Linked DNA regions of Homo sapiens: all the other regions are linked to region 1. Evidence: fine-mapped expression QTL. A gene starts in region 1. Each other region holds a variant in brackets. All regions are shown on one strand. Distances are from middle to middle.

What was found. PIP is the estimated chance that this variant, and not a neighbour inherited with it, causes the effect.
Region 2: its variant is the best candidate, but not a certain one, in a credible set for the expression of WASHC4 in spinal cord (GTEx, PIP 0.56).
Region 3: its variant is the best candidate, but not a certain one, in a credible set for the expression of WASHC4 in whole blood (INTERVAL, PIP 0.76).
Region 4: its variant is the best candidate, but not a certain one, in a credible set for the expression of WASHC4 in whole blood (TOPMed, PIP 0.77).
Region 5: its variant is the best candidate, but not a certain one, in a credible set for the expression of WASHC4 in whole blood (INTERVAL, PIP 0.60).
Region 6: its variant is the best candidate, but not a certain one, in a credible set for the expression of WASHC4 in caudate (GTEx, PIP 0.54).
Region 7: its variant is the best candidate, but not a certain one, in a credible set for the expression of WASHC4 in spinal cord (GTEx, PIP 0.68).

Annotation. Positions count from the first base shown.
Region 1 is chr12:105,105,549-105,109,548 of GRCh38, forward strand. WASHC4 (WASH complex subunit 4) reads left to right here and starts at 2,183. Exons shown (of 33, transcript NM_015275.3): 1 at 2,183-2,313. The coding sequence starts at 2,253. LOC414300 (a long non-coding RNA gene) reads right to left here and starts at 2,094. Exons shown (of 2, transcript NR_121211.1): 1 at 1,240-2,094. RefSeq lists silencers at 1,992-2,271, 2,482-2,731 and an enhancer at 2,292-2,451.
Region 2 is chr12:105,195,135-105,199,134 of GRCh38, forward strand. APPL2 (adaptor protein, phosphotyrosine interacting with PH domain and leucine zipper 2) reads right to left here. Exons shown (of 21, transcript NM_018171.5): 11 at 2,631-2,819; 12 at 451-493; 13 at 311-367; 14 at 127-215. Among named protein-coding and RNA genes, the nearest start is that of APPL2, 39 kb to the right of the region's middle. The variant G/A (reference allele first, on the strand shown) is at 2,171.
Region 3 is chr12:105,075,690-105,079,783 of GRCh38, forward strand. All of the region lies in intron 1 of ALDH1L2 (aldehyde dehydrogenase 1 family member L2), which reads right to left. Among named protein-coding and RNA genes, the nearest start is that of ALDH1L2, 6.7 kb to the right of the region's middle. RefSeq lists a silencer at 3,262-3,556. The variant G/GCA (reference allele first, on the strand shown) is at 2,351.
Region 4 is chr12:105,082,316-105,086,395 of GRCh38, forward strand. It overlaps ALDH1L2 (aldehyde dehydrogenase 1 family member L2), which reads right to left and starts at 2,143. Exons shown (of 23, transcript NM_001034173.4): 1 at 2,074-2,143. The coding sequence starts at 2,121. RefSeq lists enhancers at 986-1,786, 1,281-1,520 and a silencer at 2,021-2,450. The variant T/G (reference allele first, on the strand shown) is at 1,719.
Region 5 is chr12:105,158,977-105,163,055 of GRCh38, forward strand. It overlaps WASHC4 (WASH complex subunit 4), which reads left to right. Exons shown (of 33, transcript NM_015275.3): 29 at 1,025-1,172; 30 at 3,773-3,869. Among named protein-coding and RNA genes, the nearest start is that of WASHC4, 53 kb to the left of the region's middle. The variant G/A (reference allele first, on the strand shown) is at 2,426.
Region 6 is chr12:105,218,480-105,222,573 of GRCh38, forward strand. All of the region lies in intron 2 of APPL2 (adaptor protein, phosphotyrosine interacting with PH domain and leucine zipper 2), which reads right to left. Among named protein-coding and RNA genes, the nearest start is that of APPL2, 16 kb to the right of the region's middle. The variant A/C (reference allele first, on the strand shown) is at 2,151.
Region 7 is chr12:105,257,642-105,261,735 of GRCh38, forward strand. No RefSeq gene overlaps it. Among named protein-coding and RNA genes, the nearest start is that of APPL2, 24 kb to the left of the region's middle. The variant C/G (reference allele first, on the strand shown) is at 1,865.

The DNA of each region.
Region 1 (4,000 bases):
AATAACTTTCAGATAGCACTTTTCATTTAGTGAATGTGCTTTTCTATTTGGTATCTAATTTGTAATTCTCTAACAAAATTTGAAATTATAGGCTGTGAAATTTGATTTAAACATATTTAAGATCAAGACAGAAAATCCCTGAGTTTTTTTTTTTTTTTTGAGATGGAGTCTTGCTCTGTTGCCCAGGCTGGAGTGTAGTGGCTCAGACGACTTTCCTGCCTCAGCCTCCAGAGTAGCTGGGACTATAGGCAGGCACCACCATGCCCATCTAATTTTTATATTTTTAGTAGGGACAGGGTTTCACCACGTTGCCCAGGCTGGTCTCAAACTCCTGACCTCAAGTGATCCACCCACCTTGGCCTCCCAAAGTACTGGGATTACAGGCATGAGCCACCACACTGGGACTTGTGAGATCTGGGACTTCTGAGATCTTTTTAAGATAAATCTATATTGATTCATAATAGCAACCTGGTACAGTATGTGGTTGGTATTGTTCTATGTACCTTATATGTATTAACTAATTTAGTCCTCGTAAGAATCCCACAAGGTGTTTACTAGTTTTATTTTATTTTCATTTTATAGATGAGGAAATTGAGGCAGAGGTTAAATTACGTGACCCAAGATCACATGGTTAGTAAGTGGCAGAGCCAGGATTTGGACCTAGGCAATTTGGCAGTCAAAACTGTGCTTTCAATTATTACATGACACTGCCTCTTGCTACTAATCTATTAACTTTAATAGATTAGTGTATTTATAGACTCAAATTTTTCTGACTTGTAAGTTCAATTTATCACAATGAGCTGCTGGGAGATTAATTACAGTGATTTAATGCAAATGTTAAGAATCCAGGAAAGTCAAACTCATGGTCACACAGAAAGTACAGGAAAAAAGTTTGTCAGCCATTAGACCCTAAGGATGCCTGTTCTTTTCAAGATTTTTTTTTTCTTTCTGAAATGCCCACTAAGTCTGCCATAGGGTCAGAAAGCAATTTTCTTACATGTTTTATAGTTTCTGCATCTAGCCTGGTGCCTGGTACCCAGTGGGCACTCAATAAACATTTAACTCAGGGCAGATCCAATGACCTCAGAAGAATGCTCTTCAATAGACCTTTTGCCTACATTGATTAGTTCTTTTCGGTACTTTTTAAGATTACAAGAGTAAAACCCTAATAAATTCTCATTGTTAAGGATTCAAAACACATAAGTAGACACATCAAAACTTGAAAATCCTGTTACTCACCAACACATGCTTTTCCCCAGGTAACCACCGTCCTCTGATTTGTCTTCCTATGAATTTACATACACGTAGGCACATACGCGTTTGTATAACTTAAAAACATAAATGTAATCACAAATACACATTACTCTGCAACTGTCTTGTGTCGGTTGTTCATGCCATTATAAATATATTTCATCTATTTTAGCAGCTCTTCAGTGATTCGTAGTATGGATGTATTGAGCTTTATGTAATTCACTTGTAATGAACATTTAGATAGTTTCCTATTAAAAACCACGTTGCTATAAATATTCTTGTGCAAATACGTGTATGCATGTAGAATTTTACACCGATCCCGATTCTCCAAAAATCCAAATTGCAGGTGGGATCATTTTAGAATGTACTTCAATAGCGTTCTTCATCCTGCCTCGCGTTTTTAAAAGGACTGAGTGGAGAGCGGGGAAGAGGTCGTAAGATCCCCTGTTAGGGTGTTCATAAAGTAACTTCTCCTCTCGCACAGAACGTCTTGACTAAAAAACAATCCGTACAGAATGTGCGGGAGAGCTGTAGGAACTCCTACGGTGGCGACAGAGAGGGAAACAGGCTTGTTGGAAGAAGCGCCTGGTCAGCGTTATCCTCGAGGATCATGCCTTCCTGTTAATTCCCCACCCCATCAATTCTACCTTTTTAGGTTAGACTGGGGAGTAACTTTCCCAGGTATTAAAAATCGTCTAGAGAGAGCAGGGCGAAATTAGAGTGCCGAAGTGGCTTGAGAAGCACAGTGAATGGTGGCGAAGCCCGAGCCGGGTCGCAAGACGCCCGCTGGCACTGCCGGCGCCATGGCGGCCGCCTTCGGCCACGGCGGAGGACTCGCTTTCCCAGGGGCCCCCGCGGTCGCAGGGGCAACGAGCCCGGCCGGCCCTCGCGAGCGGAGGCGGGGCCGGGGCCGGAAGTCACGTGCTGTGACAGTAGCTGGGGTGAGGCCGTCGTCGCCGCACGGGCTGGTTGGGGCTGTGTCTGTGGGAGGCGCCGGGGTGATGGCGGTGGAGACTCTGTCCCCGGACTGGGAGTTTGACCGCGTTGACGACGGCTCGCAGAGTAAGGGAGCTGCAGGGCGAGGGCTGCGGGTGGACGCTCCTTCGGCCCGCCGCTGTTCTGGGCTGGGCAGCGCTCCTGCGAGAGGGACGGCTGCGCAGCCGTCTGGTGCGGGACACTTCAGAGCCCTTGGGGTGTGCGAGGGACGCGCTCTCCAGCGTTACTTTCGGGGTTGGGGTCCCAGCCACGGCGGGTCAGGCTGCCCGTTCAGGGCTCGGCGTGTGAGGCGGAGACTCTCCTGGGGAGCCTGCGGTGCCCCGCGGGGAGCGGCGTCCCCCTTCAGCTGCCCCGGGGCTTGGGCGGGGCGCGCCCGGGAGGCCCAGCGGCCCCGGGATCCCAGGCTGCTTCTGTCTCTGGCCTCTTGGGGATTTCGCCAGATTCTGAGCGTTCAGCTCTGGAGGACGCTGATGTCTGGGTTCCTGTTTCGGTTTCCTGTTTTTCTTCTTTTCCTCCCAAATCAACTTTTGCAAGTTTGGGTGTCTTTCCCATCGCGTTGCTATAACCGTAGAAGGGAGCGAAAAAAGAACTTTTCACCCTGCGAAAATAAACACGTGAATGTCATTTTATCATTTTCCAGGCCTTTTATTTATGCTAAGTGATATTTTTCAGTGATGTTCTGCAGTTTCCATCGCAGTTATAAAGGCTTCAAAAATTACAGCAAATCTTCAAATTTTGCTTCACAAGATCGAATTGTCTGATTTTAACTTAGAAGTCTATCCCGAAATAAACAAATTGTGTTTCTTTCAGTAAAATATTGAGGCCAAATTAATTGTAGTGAAACTCTACTTGAAATAAATACAAGTTGGCAATCTGCTTCTTATCTTTGGTCATAGTAATCTGTGTAAGTGATCTAAGAGAGATTGGAGCATGCTGTTTGTGATTTTTTTTTTCCCTCATAGTTTTCCCAAAAGGTGGAACGTTGCTTTTAAAAATTCCGGATGAATTTTGCTTGATTTACGAAGAGAGACTAATGCCTACAATGTTAGATGAATTAGGTTTTACAAGTCTCTCAGAGAAGAGTGAGCTACATCCAGGATGGGTTGCAGTTTTTCACAAAACATTCCTGAGGTCAGGAGTTCAAGACCAGCCTGGCTAACATGGTGAAACCCCGTCTCTACTAAAAAATAAATAGCTGGGCTTGGTGGCGAGCGCCTGTAATTCCAGCTACTTGGGAGGCTGAGGCAGGAGAATCGCTTGAACCCGGCAGGCGGAGGTTGCAGTGAGCCGAGATCGCGCCATTGCACTCTAGCCTGGGTGATAATAAGGTATTAGCTCTTATGCAGCATAAAAATTAACCTTGGAGATAATGACAAAATCTTTTAATTTTTTTTTGTGGAGGGGATTCTGTATTGTTATAAAGTGAACTGTACCTTGTCATATATGTTTTATGGACAAAGATGACGAACTGGTATCTTCAAAAAAAATTGGAATAGAGTTATGTTAATTGAGTTTGAAAATGGTTCAGCCTGGAGTAGAATGGTCTGATTCACTCAACAGATATTTTCTACAACCAGTGGCTGTGCTAGATATTAGGGATAAAAAGATAAAACAAGGAGTGCAGTCTGTTGACAAAGATGAGCATGTTAAGTAGGTTTTTGGAATTTTTACTCTTAAAAAATTACCATGTAGTTCTTATCTCAACTTTTGTTATTTTAACTTTCACCAATTTTACAACCGTTTATTGTCAGCA
Region 2 (4,000 bases), 90 kb after region 1:
TACTGCTTCTGTTAAACAGGCTGAAAAACATGCCTTGGTTTGTGTGGATTAAGCAACAACTCATTTCGTATTCCTAATCAATAATTTGGCTCCACAAAAGCTAGTTTTTCTTTGTCCTTTAGTTACCTGGGGCATGAGCTTTCTTGTTTTTTTCCAAAACTTGTAATGGGAGTCACTGCTTGCAGAGCGGTCTGATTCAACTTGATCGCGACTGCCTAAAAATCCACAGGAAGACACACTCAGTCCCAGGAGGTGGACGCTTACCTTCCAGGTTGAGAAAAGGGCTGAGATGCCGGTGGCTGATAATTACCTCAGGGTTGTCGGTCAGGTAGATCTGTCTGGAGATGTTGTTTATTGCACATATCCACTGTAGAGGACATTAAAAAAGAACACTGAATCCCAAAGTCACCCACCACGTTAGGAAAGAAATATGACAAACAAAATTTTTACCTCTTCATTTTCCTTTCTGCTCTCAGCCTGGAGGATTATTCCCCTGAAACAAAAGTGTCTAAGTAATTAAGTGCTTCCCTGATCTCAGTGACTGGGAATTTCTCTACATAAACTGAACTTAGCTGGGGTGTGGGAGGAAAAGTGCCATGAAGGCAGCATGATGAGAGGGAAAGAAAATGGGGTTCCAGGGCCAGGTGCAGTGGCTCATGCCTGCAGTCCCAGCATTTTGGGAAGGTGAGGCAGGAGGATGGCTTGAGCCCAGGAGTTCGAGACCAGCCTGGGCAACATGGTGAAACCCCCTCTCTACAAAAAATACAAAAATTAGCTGGGCGTGGTGGCGTGTGCCTGTAGTCCTAGCTACTAGAGAGGCTGAAGTGGGAGGATCGATCGAGCCCAGGAGGCTGAGGCTGCAGTGAGTGGTGACTGTGCCACTGCACTCCAGCCTGGGTGATAGGGCAAGGCCCTATCTCAAACAAAAAAAAAAAAAAGAAAAAGAAAAAAGAAAATGGGCTTGTAGGTCTGGCTCTGCCCTGATTCACTATGTGATCTTGGACAAACATGGCCGTTTCCCTGGGCCTCAGCATGTTCATCTATGAAATGAGAAGGCGGGACTCGGATCTTCTAGCCCAAATCTGTGTTTGTACAGTGAGATCCACCTGTTGACCTCCTCTAATGATCCAAGATGACCAGGACTCCAAGCCCAGCCACTCCTCAAACCATGCCCAAAGAAGGACTTGGCAGCCCATTCACTCCTTTCCCAGAACTGAAAAGTCTGCTGCGTATGGAGGCCCGGGAATAAGGTAACAGTAATACTGCCCTACCTTTGTGGAGGCGTTAACTCTTTTTTTTTTTTTTTTTTTTTTTTTTTTGATGGAGTTTTGCTCTTGTTGCACCAGGCTGGAGTGCAATGGTGTGATCTCGGCTCACCACAACCTCCGCCTCCCAGGTTCAAGCGATTCTCCTGCCTCAGCCTCCTGAGTAGCTGGGATTACAGGCATGCGCCACCACTAACGTGCCCGGCCAATTTTGTATTTCCAGTAGAGACGGGGTTTCTCCATGTTGGTCATGCTGATCTCAAACTCCCAACCTCAGGGGATCCACCTGCCTCGGCCTCCCAAAGTGCTGGGATTATAGGCGTGAGCCACTGTACCCAGCCGAGGCTTTAACTTTTTAAAGAGACCCCACATCTGCCAGTTCCCTTGTTCCTCTCATCTGTGGCAGATGGAGTAACATAGATCTTATCCCTATTTTATATCTGAGGAAAGTGAGGCCCAGAGGAGGTAACTGCAAAGGACCATGATGAGCATCCAGGAATCTCCATTCCCAGGTCATTTCCCATCACCAAAGCAGGAAGGATGAGGTCTAAAGCTGCTCTGCCAAGCTGGGAGGAGAGACATCATCCCAATGCCGTCCCCACCCCTACCCCTGCTGTTCAGGTCAAATCTTAATAGAATGCAGTGTGAGAAGAGCGGCTCTGATGACGGGCAGGGCCACTCCTCTCCCCAGGCAGGTGAACCCTGAAGCCCCTCCATGGGACCCTGAAGCCCCTCCATGGGACCCTGAACTCCTTGGAGCAGTTTAAAAACCACCACTCTGAGAGGGGATCCCACTGGGATGGGATCTACTGTGAATGGCCACAGCCTGCGGATTGGTAAAGTACCACCTCTTTGGGGCCCCTCAGGTACACAGGACATGTGGGAACAGCCTGGCAGCCGACGAT[G/A]CTGCTGCAGTGGAGTACACTTCTCACAACTCCTGCTTCTGCTGGAAAAATGGCCTTCTCAGGAAGGTCGTCCTTACCAAAATAGTTACTCTCCCCTGCTGCAATCCAAACACAAATGCTTCTTTACAACAGGCTAGGAGTAGCCACAGCCTTCTCTCTCTGAGAATCTATGCTAACAAGCACGACTTCTGTTGCTGTCTCACACACGTAGGTCATCTCTTCTCCAAAGCCACAGACAAACCCTCACTTATCTCCATATGGGATAAGGCAGGCTGGATCCCTTATGGGTCATGCGGGCTTGTTTAAAGAGAGCAGAAAATCATCCTCCTGAAAGGTCAACAATACCCAGATTGGGGCCTCTCCCACAGAGGGCTGGCACATAGGAATGAACTAGGAGGCCCTTGGAACGGGTGGAACCACTATACTCATTCTCCTCCCAAATAAAACGCGTGAAACATACGATTTTCCATTGGGCGTGGTGATCTGGAAGCAGTAGCGCCGGTCTTCGCAATCCACGGCCATCACTGAGCAGTTGTCCAGGTCCTGGATCAAACCTCCAGCCACGGCTCCCCTGGGCTGACACATGAGATTCCCGCCTTGGGTGAAGAAATAAAGCCTCTCCCAGGTGGTGGTGACCAGCCCTGTTTTGCTGTGAGTTGTGTTTTAAAAAGCCCATTAGTACCAGAAAGCACCAGCGGCCACCTCCAAGTCTTGCTACCTCGTTATGGGTACTGGTGGCATTTTAGAAATAATGTGTTTCTTTATATCGTTAAAGCAAAACTGCCCATTCAAGTGGAAAGAGCAGCAGAAGGGTACAATTTAGCTGGAATGATCTGGGAGATCATGGGCTCTGCTTCCAAGGGAGACACCAGTCCCAGGGCCGACTCCCCGCACCACAGCCACATGCTGACTACTAAACCAGGAGATGCAACTAGAATGAGTCCGACACCATTAAGGACTGAACACCTGGAGAATCATTTCTCTGACACCTGGAGCTGAGCTGCTCTGAATCTAGTCAGGGTTGCCTTAGCCCACAGCACCCACCCCATAGTCCTAGGAGGCTCTCAACAGACTGGATTTTGCTGTAATTGAAGGTCATTCTTGTTTTGTGGGCAGCTTACAAAAGGAAAATCTAGTTCCTGGCAAATAACGACAGAACCCGGTAGGTTTTCTACATCTGCAGAACTACAGGGGACATTTAGCTTGTGATCGCTGCAAGTTCACAGACCTTAGAGGTACTCCAGCCTGGTAACAGCTGGCAGTTCCTCTCCATGGACCCTCCACTGGGGGTTATCAAACACATTTACTTGGCTCAGTATTTACTGAGTAGCAACTATGTCCAAAGGCACTGGGTTTCCTGCCCCAATAATTTCCCCAAATGGCAACGGCTGACATCTGAGTGCTCACTGCCTGGGAGGGATGACCACATTCAATCTAACTTCGTAAAGCAGGTGCAGTTATCAGCTCCATTTTACAGATGAAGAGATCAAGGCTCAGCCCAGCTGGGATGTCTGATTCCAAAGTCAGTGCTTTTCACACCACACCATGACAATATCCTCTCTGCTCACAGAAATACTTAAACCTGATCATCCCTTCCATTCAAAACGGACACTTAAAGACCTGAGTGGTAAATGTGTGACTCAATCAGTATGAATCGAACTGACTCTAAAAGCCTCCTGACCTTGCCTCTGGCCTTGCAGGTAGGTCTCCAGCACATGGCTCTCATCTGCCAGCTGGTGTGGGGGAAGTGGCATGAGGGGATAAAAACTGTCAGTGGTCCAGGACGGCAACAGTTAAGAGTGGTCTGTTTGCACATGGCCACAGTGACCA
Region 3 (4,094 bases), 30 kb before region 1:
AGTTTCTAACACTGAGAAGTTTTCAGATTTCATGACTATAAATATGTTTATAATGAGTTAGCAAGATTCCAGAAAATTGGACTGATATATTTTACTTTATTTATTTATTTTGAGACAGGGTTTCACTCCATGGTCACCCAGGCTGGAGTGAAGTGGTGCAATCTCGGCTCACTGCAGCCTCCGCCTCCCGGGTTCAAGTGAATCTTGTGCTTCAACCTCCCTAGTAGCTGGGATTACAGGCACACACCACCATGCCCAGCTAATTTTTGTATTTTTAGTAGAGACAGGGTTTCACCATGTTGGCCAGGCTGGTCTCAAACTCCTGACCTCAGGTGATCTACCTGCCTTGGCCTCCCAAAGTGCCAGGATTACAGGCTATTTTACTTCAGTCTTATTTCTCCAGGTGTGGTGCCTGCCTGTATTGGCAGAAGTAACTGGGAGAACATGTTTAAAATGTGGATTCCTGGGCCCTACTTCAGATCTACTGACTCAGAATCTTAAGCCCAGGAAGCTGCATTTTAACAAACTCTTCAGTGACTCAGAAGTACATGGAAGTCTGAGAATCTCTGCTCTGTGGAGAGTGGTATGTCTGCCCACAAGAACAAGATTCTGCCCTGGGGAGTTTCGGTCAGGAAGAAATGGTGGAAATAAGAGCAAACATTTTAATGAGACCCTAGTTTGGGCCAAGTATTTCACATTATTATCTCATTTGATTGCACAATGACTCCTGGAGACAGGCATTATTAACCCACTTTAGGGATAAAGAAATTAAAGACAGAGAGGTTAAGTAGCCAGGAGTCAAATAGCTGCTAAGAGGCAGCCCTGAGATTCCAACTCTGTTTATTATCCTAGTGCCTATTGTTTTTTCATACACCAGCTGTGCAGTCTTGAACTGGGCTTTATTTTCCATCATCAATTAAAATCAGAATAGTAATAGTACCTATCTCATAAGGTTGTTATAAGGATTCAATGGGATAAAGTGTGTAATGCATTAGCACAGTGCATGGCAATAGTAAATGCTCAGTAAATGTTACCTATTATTATTATCATACCATAAGCAATACCTAGGTACCTACAAATAATGATAATAGATATTTCCTATTGGAAATATACCATGAGCCAAACACTATGTTGAGCCCTTTTCATTAATTCAAAAAGTATTTATCAAATGCTTATTATACATCTTTAATCCCCCCAGTGACCCATTTTGCAAATGAGAAAACAAAGGGGTCAGAAAGTTAAGTAACCTGCCCAAGGGCAGAGCTAATAAGGGTCCAGGGCAGGATTCAAACCTGGATCTGTCTTACTTTAGCAGATGTGTTTCTAAGGCTTTCCTATGCTGAAAGTTCCCCTCCTACTTTAGAAAAAGAAAAACATAGCAACAGTTTGACAGGTCAATTGGGAATAGTTCCATCAGCCTGTTTAAGGAAATGCCACAGTGGAAGTGACGTGGGAGACAGCACCATTCTTTAACCGGCTCTCACTATAGGTGTCTGTCGCATTAGTGAGAAAGGGCATAAAATGACACACAGTCATTTCCAAATCTGGATGATAAGTTCTATAATCTAATCTTGTTTCTTTTTTCTTTTTTTTTTTTTTGAGACAGAGTCTCACTGTGTCACCTAGGCTTGAGTGCAATGGCGCCATCTCGGCTCACTGCAACCTCCGCCTTCCGGGTTCAAGCAATTCTCCTGCCTCAGCCTCCCAAGTAACTGGGATTACAGGCGCACGCCGTCATGCCCAGCTAATTTTTTTTTTTTTTTAATTTTAGTAGAGATGGGGTTTCATCGTGTTGCCCAGGCTGGTCTCAAATTCCCGAGCTCAGGCACTCCACCCGCCTTGGCATCCCAAAGTGCTAGGATTACAGGCGTGAGCCACCACGCCCGACCTTGTTTCTTTAGAGAGAACATTCTTCACTAGAGGAGACTTTTGCAGGGAGCAGAGCCTTTGCTTTCCAAATTGTCAAATAATGCATTCCCAGGCTGTCCACCCTCTGGTGGAATTCTTCAGGAAGCAAGTTAATACAGACCCTGACTATGCTCCAAGAATTAAAAAAAAAAAAAAAAAAAGGTACACATAGCTTTCCAAAGAAAACTTCAAGGCACAGTGCGAAGAGTCTGCCCTGATCTGAAGCCCTTTGGCCAGATGCTAATAGAACCATCTGGGCAGGGTGTAAAGTAAGGCCAAAGCTATCCAAGTAAGAATTGGCAGTTTCACACAGAGGACCTTCACACAAAAGAATAAAACAAAGTACATTTTCCTGAGACCCTGAGGTGCCTAACACTTCATGGAGCATCCGGCACAGAGTGCCCCAAACTGTGCCTGACTCTGTGCAAGACTCATCCAACAA[G/GCA]CATGTTTTCAGGCTTTGCCACACTCTGGGCGTAGTGCATGGTAGAGGTGGCACATTACTGGCCTGGCAGGGGTGTTTTATTTGGCCCACAAAGCATTTTTAAGAGGACTCTGTTAAGATTTTTAGGAGGTTGCACCTCAGAAGGCACAACTTCTAACTTGTCTTTAAAACTCAGGAGGTTTGGCTGGGTGCCGATCACCTGAGGTCAGGAGTTCAAGACCAGCCTGGCCAACATGGTGAAATCCCATCTTTATGAAAAGTACAAAAAAATTAGCTGGGCATGGTGGCGCGTGCCTGTATTCCCAGCTACTCAGGAGGCTGAGGCAGGAGGATCGCTTGAACCCGGGAGGCAGAAGTTGCTGTGAGCTGAGATCGCGCCATTGCACTCCAGCCTGGGCGACAGAGCAAGACTCTGTCTCAAAAAACAAAAATCAAAAAAACTCAGGAGGTTTGTCAACCCTGGTCTGTGGCGCCGTATAGCAACAGTCAGCTAGCGCTGAGCAGTGGTGGCCCCTTTACCCTAGACATGGTCTTGCCCTCTATGCAGCTCAAATCTCTCATTTGCTTTACCTGTTTGGCCTCTGTGGGAATTTCTCTTTGCGACCCTTACACTAAAGATAAAAAGAAGCAGTCCCTGTACTCGGGAATCCACCAACTAGTAGGGAGGGCACACAAGCTAAGACATAGTAACAGTGCTAGAATAAGAGAGCACAGTTTGGTTAAGAGACGAGAAGCCTTCTCCAGAAGGGAGTTACTTAGCTGAATCTTAGAGAATCCATCTTGGGAGTTGGCAGAGAAAAGGGAGAGGCTTGGGAAGTTCCAGGCAGAGGGTGCGGTATTTACAAAGAAACAAATGCATGTGCACAGCGTGTCCAATACTGGGAGTTAAGGAGTGGTGACAAGCGACACCGTAGCAAGAGACATTATGGAGCGCTTTGTGTCAAATAATTGGGACCTTATTGTGAAGACAATGAGATTCACTGAGCCGCTTTAAGCAGGAGAGTTAATTGAAACCAGGAGAGTCTAGTTTCTATGCTAATAGACTGCTTAGGTAACTCTGGAGGCATGAACTAGCTCCGGGTAGACACACCTCTTGTGTTGAGAATGGAGCAGAGCGTGAAAATCAAAGCTGACCTAGCAATCCACCTGTAGCATAGTCACAGGATATAGTCTGGAATAGTGTGAAAGCTCTTGCAACCAATTGTAACAAACTCTCATACTAACAGAAGCAACAAGTACACTTTACATAGAGGTAGATCTGCAAGATTCAGGATACCATCCTAAATGGCAAGCTTGCGCAACTTGATGTTCCTATTGCCTCATTATATAAAGAAGATATCAGTGAGGGCTTTCTTGGATGTCTGGCCAACTTTTGTTTTTTCATCATAAAAAGGATAAAATATTTTAAAAGGAGGGATGTCAGTACAGGGGCCTATGAGCAGGTGATGCCAGAGGGGGATGCCCAGGACTCAGAGGCTGGAGAGAGCTCCTGGGCCGAGGCTGGTGACCACAGAACACTTCAAAGACTTTGAGTAAAGGGAGAGACAGTCCAAAGGGCTCGAGTCCAGAAACGGACTCCAGTACTAGAGAGGCAGGATTTCCATGCACAGAATTTACTATAATATTTTAATTGTATAAAATTTTTAAAATTAATTTTTAATTATACATATTACATATACACACAAGCTCCTTACGAAAAGAAAAGATCACAGATAAGACTACAGTCCCTTTTGACCATCACTCC
Region 4 (4,080 bases), 23 kb before region 1:
TTCCATTACCGCCCAAATTCCTTTATGCCTATTTATAATCAATCCTTCCTCCTATCTCCAGCTCCAGACATCACTGATCTTTTTTCTGTCCCTATAGTTTTACTCTTCCAAAATGTCAGATAAATGAAATCATAAAATATGTAGCATTATGAGTCTGATTCTTACACTTAGCATACATATTTGAGTTCCATCCATGTTGTATGCATCAGTAGTTCATTCCTTTTTCCCCCAACTGAGTAGAATTCCATTGTATGGATGGATATACCACAGCTTGTTTATCCTGTCACCAGCTGAGGACAATTTATTTCCAGTTTTTGGCAATTATGAATAAAACCTCTAGAAACATCAATAAACAGGTTTCTATGCGGGCAAATAAGGTTTCATTTCTTTTGAGTAAATACCTAGGAGTGTGATTCCGGGGTCATATGATAGGTTTATGTTTAACTACATATAAAACTGCCAAACAGTTTTCCAAAGTGGCTGTACCATTTTATATTTCCACCAGCCATGTATCTGTTTGATTTTGAATAATTCTTATAAAACACAGTCCAGAACATTTTCTACAGGATAAAACATCCCACATTTTTCATTCACCACTCAGTAGCTTCCTTTCGACCACTGAGGAAACTGTCTTCTTCCCAGCCATGAGTATCACTGCTTTTCCATATGCACCCCTGCGTACAGTTAGACCCTGATCACGCCAGTTCTTCCCCACATCCATAGTTTTGTTTATGCCATTTGCCACCTGAGATGTTTACCTTTTATTACTGAAATCTTATGCAAACCGCACTATCAAAATCTTTTCATTCTGCAAGACTTCCTTCTGGTCACCAAAAAAGACAAGTCAGTGAAAGGTGTTGACAGAGGAGGCCAACAAAACAGGCTCAGGCATTGGGCACAGCCCGTTGCTTTCTGTGCTATCCATCTGGGATCCCATGTGCCACGTGGTGGGGGAAGCTAATGAGGGGTCCAGGAGAGCAGGCCAAAGTCCTAGCAGAGCAGGTCTTCCCCACCCCCACCCCTCGTTTTATAAAAGGTGACTATACCTCAAAGTAACTAGAACTGGTTGCAAAGAGTAAAACGAATTCTTATTATTTGGGGTTGTCTGGGATACAGAAAGCTTTTCCTTTGATGCAAGTTTGGGCCAGTTTTTGGTGCTACTCAAGACTTCTCTCTGCCTCCAAGTTTTTTACATCTGAATATATACATATGTACATATGGCTTTGGCATGGCCGAGAAAAAGAATCGATAAGCAAATTCTTTTATGTACTTCCTATAAAAGATACGATACATAAGACAGTTTTTATTTTTTTTTTTTCTCTCTCTCTCTTCCCTAAACAGTCCCGAGGCCCCCTGGGTGCTGAAGGCAGCACCGCAGTGCAACGTGTCCTCTCTCGGTTCCATTTCTGGAGGAGCTGATGCAATTCCAAGGCGCGGGGCTGGGCCAGAGCTCGGTTCTTGTGCTACAGTAGAATAGTGTTCCAGCGTGGCTGCCTCTGCAGCGCCTGGCAATTCTAGAAATTTTGCCATCTGCAGCTCAGCTCAGGAATACTGAGCTTGCAGCCATCAGCTTTGAGTGCCATTATCTGAACCGGCCCTGCGTGCCAGTCTCGAGCGCTTACACCTCCCAGGCCGCCAACGAGGACCCTATTGACTTGATACTCCCCTCCTCCAGGAGACAGTCTCGGTTCCATATGGCTCCAGCTCTTGACCAGGGA[T/G]CTCATGATTGAAGTGAAAAAGGAAAGGAAGCAGACTCTGTCCTCCTTACCAAGTGACTGTTCCCACCTTGCCATCCCAGCCAGACTTGACACGTCCAAAAACTGCATCCTCAGCCCCCTCCCGGCAGAAGACAATGGCCTGCGTGCCAGTTCCCATCCGGGACCCTCCCCAAGCCCTCCTCTGAGGTCTCTCTGTTTTTGTTTGTTTGTTTGTTTGTTTTAAACGCTGTCTTGGTGTTTAGCAAAGTCTAAGCATCGCTGCTCATCCCCAGCCCCACCGCCCCGGCCCTCCCGCCCCGGAGTCTGGAAACCAGGACAGGGTGACAGCCGGGACGCTCGCCCGGGCCGGACTCACCCGGCCAGTGGAGAAGCGCCGGAGCGCCTGGCTGCCCCGCCGCAGCATGCTGGAGAGGAGCGCTAGCACTGGCGACGCGGCAGCGCGGGAGGCAGGCGGGCGGCGCAGCCTGGGCGCGGCCTGGGCGCGGCCTGCAGTCTGGATGCCCCGGACTGCCTGGCTCGCGGCTCGCCGCTCTCGGCCTCTGCTAGTCCGCACCCCTCCCAAAGCCCACAGCCCGCGGCCCGCCCCACCCTACCAGCTGCAAGGCCCCGCCCCCTAGCTGTCAAGACCCCGCCCCCAGCTGGAAGGCCCCGCCCCGCCAGCTGGCTGCGTTCGGACAGCCAACCTGGTGCGACCCGGCGGAGCGCGTGGGCTTCCTGGAGCCTGTGGGCCCTGACCCTGGTGCCAAGAGCGCACCCAGTCCCAGGGACCGCGCCTCTCCGCTGCCTGGACTTTCCGCCAATTCCAGCCAAGGTCCAGGTGCTTTCTAACTGTGGGACCCTCTACCAGTTACTCAGCCCCGCAGCAGTGTATACGGATCTACCTTATTAGTGGTCAATCTGACATCCCAAGTGCTGTCCATAGCACAGCCCGTAAAAGGCACGCCTGTAGACAGATAGGTAGTGGGGGCGCCTTCGCTGTGGAGGGATCCTGATGCCTACCTCGTAGGACGGTAGGCCGGGCGCGGTGGCTCCCGCCTGTAATCCCAGCACTTTGGGAGGCCGAGGAGGGAAGATGGCCTGAGCTCAGGAGTTCGAGACCAGCCTGGCCACCATGGTGAAACCCCGTCTCTACTAAAAATAAAAAATAATAAAATAATAAAATAATTAGCCGGGCGTGATGTCGCATGCCTGCAGTCCCAGCTACTCGGGAGGCTGAAGCACGAGGATCACTTGAGCCGGGGAGGCGGAGGTTGCAGTGGAGCTGAGATCATGCCACTGCACTTCAGCCTGGACAACAGAGCGAGACTCTGTCTTAAAAATAAATAAATAAATTGGTGCAAAAGTAATTGTGGTTTTTGCCACTGAAAATAATGGCAAACCCGCAATTACTTTTGCATCAACCTAATAGATACGTGCCCTTCTCCCTCACCTCTCTGGAAAAAACGCTCAGACCTGCTTTAGCTGGACGTTTATCTCAAGCCAGACTTCTTAGCCCAGCATTCAGGGCCGTCTGCAATTTGCCATTTTCTCTTATTTCTCACTGCTCTTTTGCATATGTAATTCTGCTTGACTGCAGTTCTTGCCTATTCCTTCTTGGACAATGTTTCCCAGAAAAGCTTGTCATCTGTCACTTGTAATTATCTTGGCACGACCGTTTCTTTTCTGAAAGGTACCGCTTACATGCTGCCTCCTGGAGGCGCTTTTTTCTGATTCTTTTCTCTCTTAGTCTCCTTATTCCCCATAAATAATTGTTCACTCCTCTTAACAGGAAATAATCTTTGTCTATGCATCTGTTATGGCTGTCTCAATCTGCTACTGGTATTTGTATACCTATTAACGTCTCTGTTGGAAGCTCCTTGCAAGCTAAGTCCATGTCTGATTAATCAGGATTTACAGTATCTAGCACTAACCAGAGCTTTAAAAAAATAATAATAAAATAAAAAATAACTTGTTAAAAAAAAACTTGTTGAAACGGATGAATGTGTTTAAGAGAGTAAGGAGACAAAAAAGAACCATCATTAAAACTTGGAGAATTGCGGTTGGGCGCGGTGGCTCACGCCTGTAATCCCAGCACTTTGGGAGGCCGAGGTGGGCGGATCACGAGGTCAGGAGATCGAGACCATCCTAGCTAACACGGTGAAACCCTGTCTCTACTAAAAATACAAAAAATTAGCCGGGCGTGTGGCGGGCGCCTGTAGTCCCAGCTACTTGGGAGGCTGAGGCAGGAGAATGGCGTCAACCCAGGAGGCAGAGCTTTCAGTGAGCCGAGATCGCGCCCCTGCACTCCAGCCTGGGCGACAGAGGGAGACTCTGTTTCAAAAAAAAAAAAACTTGGAGAATTGCAACAAACATCCAAGGTTTT
Region 5 (4,079 bases), 53 kb after region 1:
ATTTCTGTGAGAATAAGGCCCCAGCACAGAAGCTTTGCTCTGGAATAGTCTGTTAGATAGCTTAAGCTCTTTGCCAGATTACATAAGCCATTTACAAAGTTAAGCCATTTGAAGTCATGTGCCTGAAAATGGTTTAAATAGTTTCTGATGTGTGTCTCAAAGGAAAGGATCAGACCTTTACCTTATGTTAAATGATGCCATTCACTCCGAAAGTGTTGACCATTTAAAAAATATTTTGAAGCAGTGTGAGGAAATCAGAGAGTAGGATATTGTCTTCTAAGATCTCTAGGGTAAAGCTGACTGCTAGTTGGAAGATCCAGATTGGTGCAAGGGAGTGGTTGATTGAAGTCAAGGAAATGTAGGGTCATGATAATGAATAGATTATCTGCATAGACAGGGGAGAACTGGAGCAGGCATCCTAATCCTGCGTAATTGTAGGACGGTGGTTAAAAGGTTAGTAGATGTCTGCTGTTAGGAAGAAGTAGTTGAGTATTTGGGTAGTTAGATATAGTTGGATTATGTGAGTCACAAAGGAAGATTTCTTTCTTACAGTGGTGGAGGAATAATAATTGAAAGTGGTAGTAGCTGTACATGAGGGATGCAGGAGAAAAAGCAGCTGATGTTTTTGAAGGTTGAGAGGGAAACTGAGTTCTTGAAAAAAAGAGCCAGGTTTATGTTGAGGTAAGGGGATGTAGGAGAAACGTTAGAGATTTAAGGGGAAGAGGAAATATTTACAATGAAGAGGAGTTCTACAGGCCTCACTGTGGGAAGAAGAAATACAGAACTATTATTTTAAGTCCCAAGATGTTCTAATAGTCTATTTTTGGGACTAAATTTACTAATATTGATCAGTTTTCTGTCCATGAGAAAATAAGTTTATTCTGAACTCCAAGAAAATTTTCTTAGAAGTGTCTTACAGTGTTTCCTGCTTTTCAAGTGTTCTTATCTAAACTATTGAGAGATGGATTTTTTTCAAAGCCACGCTTCTTTTGAGAAAGGAACCAAATAATTTTTTGCTTTTTAGGCATTTGGATTCAGTCCTCAGTGATCACACACGAAATTCTGCCGAAGGCACAGAATATTTCAAAATGCTTGTAGACGTTTTTGCTCCAGAATTTCGAAGGCCAAAGAATATACATCTCCGAAATTTCTATATAATTGTTCCCCCTCTGGTGAGTATTTCCAGAACCTAAAATGAATTTTTTTTTTAAAAAGAGTATGCACAAATAGATCTGGTTTCTTTGTAACACGAAATGCATACAGACTACACTATTAATTTCCTGGTTGCATATAAAACTAAATGTGATCTCAGTGAATGTGACATAGAATTTTTTATTTGTTAGCCATGCTGAAGGACACTTTCTTATTGTTAAATTTTTTTTTTCTTCTGAGATGGGGTCTTGCCCTGTCACCCAGGCTGGAGTGCAGTGGTGTGATCATGGCTTACTCAGGCTTGACCTCCTGGGCTCAAGCCAGCCCCCTGCCTCAGCCTCCCTAGTAGCTGGGACTACAGGTGTGCACCACCATGCCTAATTTTGGTAATTTGTTTTCTTTTTTAAGATATGGGGTCTCACTGTGTAGCCTAAGCTGGTCTTGAACTCCTGGGCTCAAGCAGTCCTCTTGCCTTGGCCTCCCAAAGTGCTGAGATTACAGGCATGAGCCACCACGTATGGCCTAAGATAGATTCTTATTTTTTTTAAATAATTACTGGAGAAATTTGAGTATTTTTTAAGTTATATGAGTATATGCCATAGAATCTTTGGGCAGAATTATTAATATATAATCATTTTAAGTGCTTAATGTAGAATAACTTTAGCTGTTATTATAGTTTTTTCTAACACATTTCTTAAAGCATATTGTTTCAAGATAACTTCTTTCTATTCAGTAGTAAATACTAACATCTGGACTAAATTTTTAATGCTTCTTAGAGTATGTAACGTGTTCTTGCTCTAACTCTGTAGTTGCTATCTAAAAATAGTTCAAGTTATCAAAAATTGCATTATAAAAACAGCTGTTCCATTAGGGAAAATGGAGTTAAGAATTTTTGAGAGGTATATATTAGTAATAAGAGTTGTTTTGGCTTAAGGTTCCTATAAAGTTTAAAAAAAATTGTAAGTAGATAGCTTTAAAATCTAAATATCACCCAGCAGATGAAGCTCTTTATTATATTTAATTTTGATCAAGAATAGTGACTTTTCATATTGCTGCCCAAGTTGTTAACACATCTTCTTACATATTAAAACCATTATTACCTATTGAAAGTAGCTAATAGCCTATAAACAGCTTTTTTCCATGAATTTTGTTTCTTTTATACATTTGTTAATTTTCTATCATAATTGTATTTTAACTATGATATAGCAAAAAATGTTCATATTCATCTTGTAAGAATCTTTTCATCTTAAGATAGTGTCAAACTGGAGGGAGA[G/A]TGTCATATTTGGTAATACTATAGTTAACTTGGGGTGAGTTCTCACCATATTTTTTTAATTTGAAGGGCAATGTACTCAAACCATTGTAGACAGCAGTTAACCCATTGGTAAGCTTAGGAAAAAGTCTGGAGTTTTACAAGGCAGTTGTCAGAATTCGCTTAGTGATGGAGAAAACAAAGTGGATTAAAAGCACTACAAAGAAGTATAGAATACTGTTCTTGTACTTGTGTTTGTAGTGTAGTTCCAGAAAAAAGACAAGCATAAATGAGATTTCTAAAAAAGATTGAATTAATGATTGATAAAAAATTCACAAACAGGTGATTAATTGCTGAATAAGTTTCACAGTCAAAAAAATGAAACTTGGTTTTGTTTCCAGCGTAGGCTATTATAGTACTTAGCACACTGTATATCATAATTAGTTTTTAAACACTTCTGCATTTACTCTTCTAGAGCTGTGCTATCCATGTATAGTCACATGTGGCTACTTAAGTTAATTAAAATTTCATAAAATTAAAATCATAAGGCAGGGCGAAAAAAATAAAAATACCTTTTTAAAAATTAAAAATTCAGCTTGTCAGTCACACTAGCCTCATTTCAAGTGCTCAGTGGCCGCTTGTGATTAGTGGCTTACTGTATGTACTGGATGGTGCAGATACACATTTCTGTCCCTGCCAACAGTGTTGCTCTAGACTGTGAACTCTAGATAGAAATCATTTGTTTAATCATAAGTACTTAATAATGCCTGGTATATTGTAAGCTTCAGTAAATCTTTGTTGAATAAAAGATATGATTAGATAAGTCATTTTGGAAGAGCTGAATTTTCAAGAGACGTACTGTTTTGAGGATTCACACTTAAGAACATGAAAAGAAATAGTATTTTCGAATGAATTAGGTAGGTGTAAGTAAGGACTGTCTTGCATATGTTTTTAAGAGTACTTGTGCTTTGAAATAAAGCAGGCCTACTTTGCTAACTCCAGCATTCACTTAATATATGACTTTGGGTGAGATAATAAATCTCCCAAGCCTCGGTGTCCTTCTCTGTAAAATGTGCATAATATTTTATAATGAGATATACAAGGCACTGTTCTTGGGCTAAGTAGTGATTGAGGGAGTGCCCATATTTAAAGGACTTGGAAAGGAGATCCATGAAGATACACTTGTATAGATTGTATCTTCACCAAGAGGGTACCTAAGGCAAATGTTTCAGATGAAAAGGACAGGAATCTAGATTCTATTCTATTCTATTTATAGTGATTCTATTTATAATTTTTAAAATGTCTGTTATAGGAATTCTGAAGATTTTCTTAGCAAAATTGTTTTTCTAACATGTTGTTACATCTTTTTAGACCCTCAACTTTGTAGAGCATTCCATTAGTTGCAAGGAAAAATTAAATAAAAAAAATAAAATTGGAGCTGCCTTTACTGATGATGGCTTTGCCATGGGTAAGCTTAATGGAATTGTTTTTCCATTAATTTTATATTGACCTTGTAATGGATTCTTAGAAACATCTGCTTGAGAATAGGTCTATATGTTCTTTATAGATTTTTCTTTCTTTTTTCTTTTTTATTTTTTTGAGACAGAGTCTCGTCTCGCTCTGTTGCCCAGGCTGGAGTGCAGTGGCACGATCACTGCAAGCTCCGCCTCCTGGGTTC
Region 6 (4,094 bases), 110 kb after region 1:
AGACAGTCTCCAGGGAACAGATGTTCTGAAGACAAACTAGGAGTCAGCCATGGGGACGAGCTTTCCAGGAGGCGCCAACACGTGGAAGAAATGCACTGCCTGTCTGAACAGCTCTGAAGTGGAGCGTGGCTGGGGCAAGAGCTGTGCGCTTGGAGGTGATATCAGGCTGGGAATGAGGCAGTGGGAAGGTGTGCAGGCCCCCGGGGCCCAGGCTCACACATACTGGAAGCACAGTGGGGACTGAAGCAGCATATGACAAGGTCAGATTCCACCAGGCTTAGAACACTCGCTGGCAATGATGGATGGTAACAGAAGCACAGCTAAACCCAAGTATCCCAGAAAACCAGAGGAAACACTGCTCTTCAAGAGCTGCGATGCCCTGGGAGGCCTGTTTTGTGCCATTTTCACCAGCCCGTACTGCTCATTTTCCTCTCCTCTTGTTTATTCCTCTAATCTCTGGCTACACAGCGGTTTTCTACCACTATCCTCCTACCACTGATGTGGGCAGCCTAGAAAACTTGCCTTACATTTCTAAAGCTCAGTTAAAGCTTAAGATTCAGGGTTTATTCCTAAGGAGCAGAGCCACTGGGTCTGACATGGCACAGATGATGGGAGGACACTGGCCTACCTCCTTGGCCTTGGCCTCCACTGGCTATTTCTCCTGGGGTTGTTGTTCCTTTAAGGCTAAGTCCTGAGCTCTGCAGGAGCTTATTTTATTTTTCCCAGTCCTATTTGGCAGAATACAGTAGAGCCAAGTCCTACCTTTTTTTGACCCTCTTCGCAGACAACTGGCCAACCTGTTCCCTGACTTCCTGCTCTGCCCTAAGGAATAGGCATTAATAGACCAGGAAACGTGGCTCTTTTTCCTCAGAAGAAAGTCAGACAAATACAACAAAAGTGCCTGGCTCTGACATCCTACTGGTATTCAACCCCTTTCAAAACTAACCAGAAATGTGACTTCTAGCCACATAGTCAGGAAGTCAGCAAGTGGACAAAGCCACAAGCACAATGTCCTTCATTCAGATAGGAACGTCCAACAATTCTTAGCACACAGCAAGCCCTCAACAAATGTTTGATGAATGAATGAATGAACAAGATTAGAAGATTCATCTAAATTCCAAGTTTAAAACAATACCTGAAATCATGGTGTAAGGGTTTTAAAATCCTTCCTAACTGTACAAGGAAACATCACAAATGAAATAAAATACAAAGCAATTGGCCAGAGACTACTACCTGTCAACCATCTTTAGCAGTGTTGTTTTGAAGATCAGAGTGCATGGAAACAAAGGTCTTATCTCACTCACTGGGCTGATACTCAGCTATGACTGAAAATCTCGTGCTCCTTCTTTCTGAGTTAGCAGCAGATGGATTCATTCAAGCTATCTTGGCATGTTCCTGAGGGCAGCACCATGTGGAACATGATTTGCAGACCCACAGAATCATTGTAACAGCAGCTAACATTTACAGAGGGCTTCATTCATGCCAGACCCTATGCTAAATGCATTCTGTGCACGACCTCATCTAATTCCAATGACCCTGTAAAAGCAGGTTCTAATTAATAACTCTATTTTATAGATGAAGAAACTGAAGCACTGAGAGATTAAGCCACCTGTGCAAGGATACACGGCTGATGAGTGGCAGGGCTGGGATGTGAACCTGGAGCTGTCCGATTCTAAAATCCACACTCCTAAATGCTACTGAGATCCCAAGTTCTACCACAAGGCAGGAGAGGAGAAGGCCTCTGCTTTACACTAGGGTGGGCAAACTTTTTCTGTAAGGAGCCAGAGAGTAAATATTTTAGGCTTGTGGGCCATATATGGTCTTTGCCACAACTATTCAACTCTGCTTTGTAGCACAAAAGAAGCCAGAAATAACATATAAACAAGTAAATGTGGCTTCATTCTGATATAACTTTATTTACAAAAATAAGATGCTGGCCCAAGAGCCATGGATTACTGATCCTGCTTTGTCATCAGATGTCTCAAAGACCCATTCTTTTGCCACACCCTCTGCAGGAGGCTCTCTTAAGCTACACCATTTCAGATCCCAGGAGCTTCTACTCTTCTAATTCATTCTTTTCTTTATTTTAGTCAACTCTAATATGTTACTTCCCCATATATGCCTCCTTCAGAGACTGGTCAACACATATA[A/C]CCACCCTCCAGGCCTTCCAAACAAGCAGGGACCATGGGCCACTCAAGTTCTTCCTCAGAGCTTACTGGCAAATGCTCCGAATGTAATGGAAAGACCTGCCAGGGAACTGCCAGCATCAGGCTGTACCCAAAGCTCAAGGGGAGAGCACTCATGTGCCACTCACACAGCCACACAGCTCCACCTCCGCTCAGGGAAGAAGGGGCACAGCGTGCAACACACAACAGCTGCCTTCCAAAACGACTTCGAACAACCAGACTCTCTGGGTCTCTCCTAGGAATACCATTTGAAAATGCTGCGTGTTTTCCTATGTGTAATATTTCAGGGTGCAAGACCAACTATGATTCTGTGCAGCCAGTATGAGTTCATCGGAAACCAACATGCTTACAACACAGCCTGTCACCTGCCCTGAACAGAGCACATTGTGTGAAAAGTCTTTCAAAAGAGATCAACTTTAATCTTACTCATACTTAAGCTACTGTACACAAAGGTTGTAAGAAATGCTTTACCAACATCAGCTAATTAATCCACGCCCTGTGCCCTGTGAGGTAGGCCTGCAAAAATATCTCTACAACAGGACTTGCAAAACTGGAGCCCGAGTGAGGAGTAAATATTAGCAATAACATCAATAAAGATAGCTGCTAACCCTGAGTCTGCCCTAAGTGCTTGATGTTGCTGTTAAATGTTTTTCATATATTATCACATTTAATCCTCACAGTGCACCCATGAAGTAGATACTATTATTATTTCCATTTTGTAAACGTGGAGACTAAGCTTCAGAAAGGATAAATAACTTTCTAAAGCCACATGACTAGTGACTGGCAGGCAACAACTTAATGCAGGACTCGAAATCAAAAGCTCATGTTCTGACTATTATGCTATTCCAATCTAAAGTCCAAAATTGCACCTACTCAATACTCAGGTGGGCAGGACCTGTAGGGCCCATAGATATGAACCTAAGTCCCACACTTTTCTAGTGGTAGAAGAGCAAAAGACGTGGGCTAAAGTGGGAATTCTCAATGGAGTTCCATGAGCAGCATTGTTTTGGGCACTCTGGGCCGCTCTGGCTGCCATCTACACTATGCACCGCTTTGTGAGAAGCCCTGAAAGGACACCCTGAGGAGGGTTTGCTGACAGCATCTCCCATGCTCAACAGAACCTCCCGGGGCTGTTGCCAAGGCAGAAAATCAAGTGGCTAGCAAGCCTGAAAGGAAAACTGGGCATTTGGCAAAGGAATGTTTATCTTTCTGTAGCACAGAACGCTAACTAAATGCAACTGTCACCTGAAACCCCCAAGGGCCTCTGTGCGCAGCAGCATCCACGGTGAATATGAATGGAGAGGCTAGAGAGTGGGGTGGAGGAAATCCACATCGATCTATACCAACTATTTGGCTGGAGATGTTGCCTAGTCACATTCAGTACCCAGTGTTTATCACAAAGCTGGCGGTCACGGGTCGCACTAGTTCAGGAGCCCCTCGAGACAGGATGCACACAGGGAGTAGTGAGGGGTGTGGCAAGAACGCGGCTGGAGCGTCTCATGCGAGGCAGGCCACGGGGGGATGCCTGCTGGACCTGGACTTTATTCCAGCGGCAGTGGGGAAGCACCAAGGAACTCAGGCAGGAGTATGAGAAGCTCAGGCACGGGTGGAAGAAAACCAGGAGTGGTGGTGGTGGGAAGAAAACACTGAAGTGGGAGAGAGAATAGATGAGGGGGACTGATCAGGAGGCCACTTGGAGAAGCTGAGATAAACAAGTGTCTGAGCCTGAGGCAGACAGTGCAGAGCGGGGCATGGAGGTATTCCTGAGGCAGAAACAGCAGGGTGTGGTGAGTGAGGAAGGCGGGGGAGTCAGAAAGAACTGTGCTGCCCATGTGGAAGGCCAGATGGAGAACGGTGCCTTCAGCCAAGGAACTGAGGAGGGGATATGAATTTGGAAATGACAACAAA
Region 7 (4,094 bases), 150 kb after region 1:
TAGTCATAGCTCTGTGAGTCACTCTGCTCACCCAGAAGGTCACTGAAGATTCAAATGAGGCAGATAGGATTGTCCATCTCTGCTGGAAAATTGTTCTATAGCAATTTTGCCTATCTAGTACAACATTTTGGAATGCTTGGAATAGAGTAACAGCAACAGCAACACAATCATAGACCATGATAACTGCCATACATTGAGGCCTAATGTATGTTAGATGTTGTGTTAGGTGCTTATATAATTGAGGTCGACAACCACGCAAGGCATGTATCATTATTCTTATTGTGTGTATTAGGAAACAGAGGCTTACATGACAAGTTTGGAGGTGGCGTTGGGATTTGGGCTCAGATCTAGCTGACTCTGATGCCTGTGCTTTGCCCACCACACTGAACTGCCCTGAAAATGTGATTCTATACCTGAATCTTGCTTTCTGGGATGCTATGTAATTGAAGAAAAGTCTTTGATACCCCAATTACCCTGATGTGATTATTACACATTGTATGCCTGAATCAGAACATCACATGTACCCCATGAATACATATACCTATTATGTACCTGTAATCATTAAAAATATTTAATTAAGAAAAATGGGAGCAATGGAAATATGTGGAGAAGGAGTGTTCTTGTGAAAAGATTCCTTTGATGTAGCATTTTTAGGAATACAATGTTTTTTTCCCCATATAACTGAATTGTCAGTTTGTTATTTAAAAAATACTTTTGAGGAGGATCAGAAAATCTTGGGAGAAAAGTGCCTTTGTTCTTCTTAGCCTTATTAAACAGAGTAGACAGAATGTAACATTCTATTCTTGGTGTGTTAAGGCCATTTTTATAAGCATGAATTGTGATTCTCTAACATGAATAGTGCTATCCCTGGAGCTACTGTAGGCTGTCTATGAGGGAGAGGGTGTTTCCTCTATATTAACCAGCATGAGTTCCTTTTTTTTCTTTTTGTTTTGTGGGATGTCAAAGTCATCTCTCAAGACCCTACTTAATCATCTTCCTTGGAGACCTTCCCTGACCCCAAGGTGGAATGCTTCTCATTTAAGCTTCAACCAGCCCTTACATACCTCCATATGGCATGTGGCCCCTTGCACTATAAGGATCTCTTTATAGGCAGGTGTTCCCACCTGACTGCACTGTGCTGGAGGCCCTCCTTCCACCGTGTGCCCCAGGCCCTGCTTGGTACAGCCCATGCACAGAGTGGTCTCTCAATACATATTTCTGGAATGAATGAGTGTTTATACCATAGATGATAAAAAGGGAGTGAATTACTTTTTCATTATGATTGGGGGGTTGTTATTGAGGTCAGGGTAGCAAAATGTATACATCTTTTTTTCCTGAATGCTTTTCATATTAAATATGAATTTGTGGGTGTTTCACTCTCCAGTCTTCAAATGTGAAGCTGGCTCTATGGTTTCTGTGTGCCTGTGTCATTATGTATGACTTTGGTTCTATGGCTGAGGTCATTTTAGGCTGTGGGCAGACCTCCCCAACCTCTGCCTGTGCTGCAGCACTCCACTTGATCCATCCCATGTTCTCTCCTGACCCATCGTCCTTCCTTGACTTCCTCATAAGAGGTGAGTTTCACTAGCCTCTGACTCTCTATAGAGATGTCAGCAGACAAGCTCCTAAACCAGTTCCTTCTTCTCCTGGGGGTGTACACAGTGGTCACCTTGTTGATAGCAGAATTCCATTCCCTGATGATCTGGCATTTGCCACATTGTTGCTCACTGAATTTGCAAGTAAAGCTCCCTCGCCGACAGAGGAAGGGTCTCTCCTTAGCCCCTCCCTGCAGTGAGGGTCCAGCAGTGATTAATGCATGGACTAGGAGGGAAGTCGGCCCTTTCTTTGGGCCTGTTTGATCACT[C/G]ACAGCTGTTTACTTAGCATCTCTACTGTGAAGATGATACAAGTCCCTACCTCATATGGTTTTTACAAGGATAAAATAAAATCATACTTGTGAAGCATACTATCATTTCTGGCATACAATAAGAATGCAATAACAAAACCTACTAACTTTTGCCCAAGATTAGGGGGAGGGCAATCAGTGATATTAATAAATTTAGTTTTCTAGCTTAAGGATTCCAGATGCCTCATCTAAACCTTTGAGGGAAGGTTTTTGTTGTTGTTGCTTGAGATTGTTACAAAACACTTTGTCTAAGAAGCAGAAAAACCCAATCCAGTATCAAGATTAGGTTCAATGTTAGTAGCACAGCCCCCTTCCCTACTCCCTGGATAACCATGGCTTAAACACACAGATTTTCTCTCTCACGTAAAAGTCCAGAATTGTCAATCTAGGGCTAATGTGGTAGCTTTTCTTCATGAGGTCCTCAGGGATCTAGGCTCCTTCTATCCCGAAGCTCCATCATATAACCTCCATAGGTTACATCATGGCCCAAGAAGGCTGCTCAGCTCCAGCCATTGAATCTACAATCCAGGCAGAAAGTAGAAAGGGGCAAGGAAGAAATAGTAAACGGTATTTGCCAGATCTCTTTTAAGGAGGATTTCAGAAGCTGCCATATGAGACTTTTACTTATATCCCATTGGACCGAACTGACTCACATGGCCATACCTAGCTGCAAAGAAGGTTGGGAAATTCAGTCTTTATCTTGGCATTGCCCTGTGTCCAGCCAGAAACCAGGAGTTCTATTACAATGGAGGAAATGGAAAATGAATATTGAAATCAGTCTTTGCTGCACAAACTCATCCACTTCTCCTTATTATATTCATTACATTCAAGGAATTTAAGTGAGGTCCCTAAAACCTCACTGTATTCTTTTCAGTCAATAATAACATGACTTAGCATTATGCCTGACACTGATACATATGCAATAAATCTAGGCATTGGGAATGCAAAGATAAATAAGGAACAGTTCTTCCCTAAATAAAAGTGGTATAATGGCTTCTGTGCTGTACCAGTGGTAGTTTCAAAGTATTATTGGATATGGGGGAAGGGATGAGTGACTTTCTGGAGGGTCACGGTGGATGGTCTGGAAAGGTCTAACAGAGAACAGCTTTTGTTTGGGACCTTGGTGAATAAAGAGGACTTTCTTAGAAACAAGCAGATACAAGCCAAAAATCAACTGCTGGGTGCATTCCCAGCTATAGGCAAGAGGTTCTTGGCTCAAATATGTGGATTCAAGCAAAGAATTAGGAAAAAATGGAGAGGGAAAGTACTTTGCCTCCTCCCATCTATGTGCACCCAAGGAACCAGAAAAAAAAGAATGGAATACAATGGTTATTTTTTAATTTCAATAGTAAAACATGGCTAGGCCATTTATTGCTATAGTCCAAATTTTTCCTCTGAAATATTGGATACTTTTCCTGTTGAAGAACAAATCTAGCATAAGGTTAATGGGCAGAGGGTCCCATTTTTAGAAACAGGTTAAACATACTGTACTGTGGAATAAGCTAATGTATGCCTGATATGAAATTTATGCTAAAATAACTCTAAAAATCTCATTAGGAGAGTAACCAGAGATCCTGAAAAACAGCTTTAATAATGGCAATAAAAGCAATCTCACCTAGTTTAGTATTACAAATGGGGAAATGAAACTATGAAGTTAAGTAGCCTAGCAAAGCCATGGGGCATTATTATAGAAGCAGCTCAGATTTTCTCATTCCTATGAACGTTTGGTTCCCTCAGTTACTAAACCTCTTTTGCATATGGACTTTTGCATATATATAACTATATAGTTATTTCCTACACTACGTACATATAAGGTTTCAAATTACACTTTGTTTTCTATTTTGCTCCAATGTACATATAAGCTCACATGTACAACCTGAGAAAACTTAGAGTTGACTGTGACAAGTCTTGATGTCTTTCATCATGCCTTTGGATAACAATTTAAACAACAGGGACAGTGCTGTTACAAAACTAAAATTATAAATATGGAAGCCATCATATGTCAAAACTGGATGCAAAATATTTTGAAGGCATTGCTTCCTAAAAGAAAACAAAGTAACTCTAGTTCATCAGAATCCAGGGAAGAAGAGAAAACCTATCCAGCCATCTGTAGTACAGCTGAGTCTGCGACATGTGACATGTACCATCCAGCATGTGACATGTACCTTCCAGGGGTTGCTTTGGGAGCCTC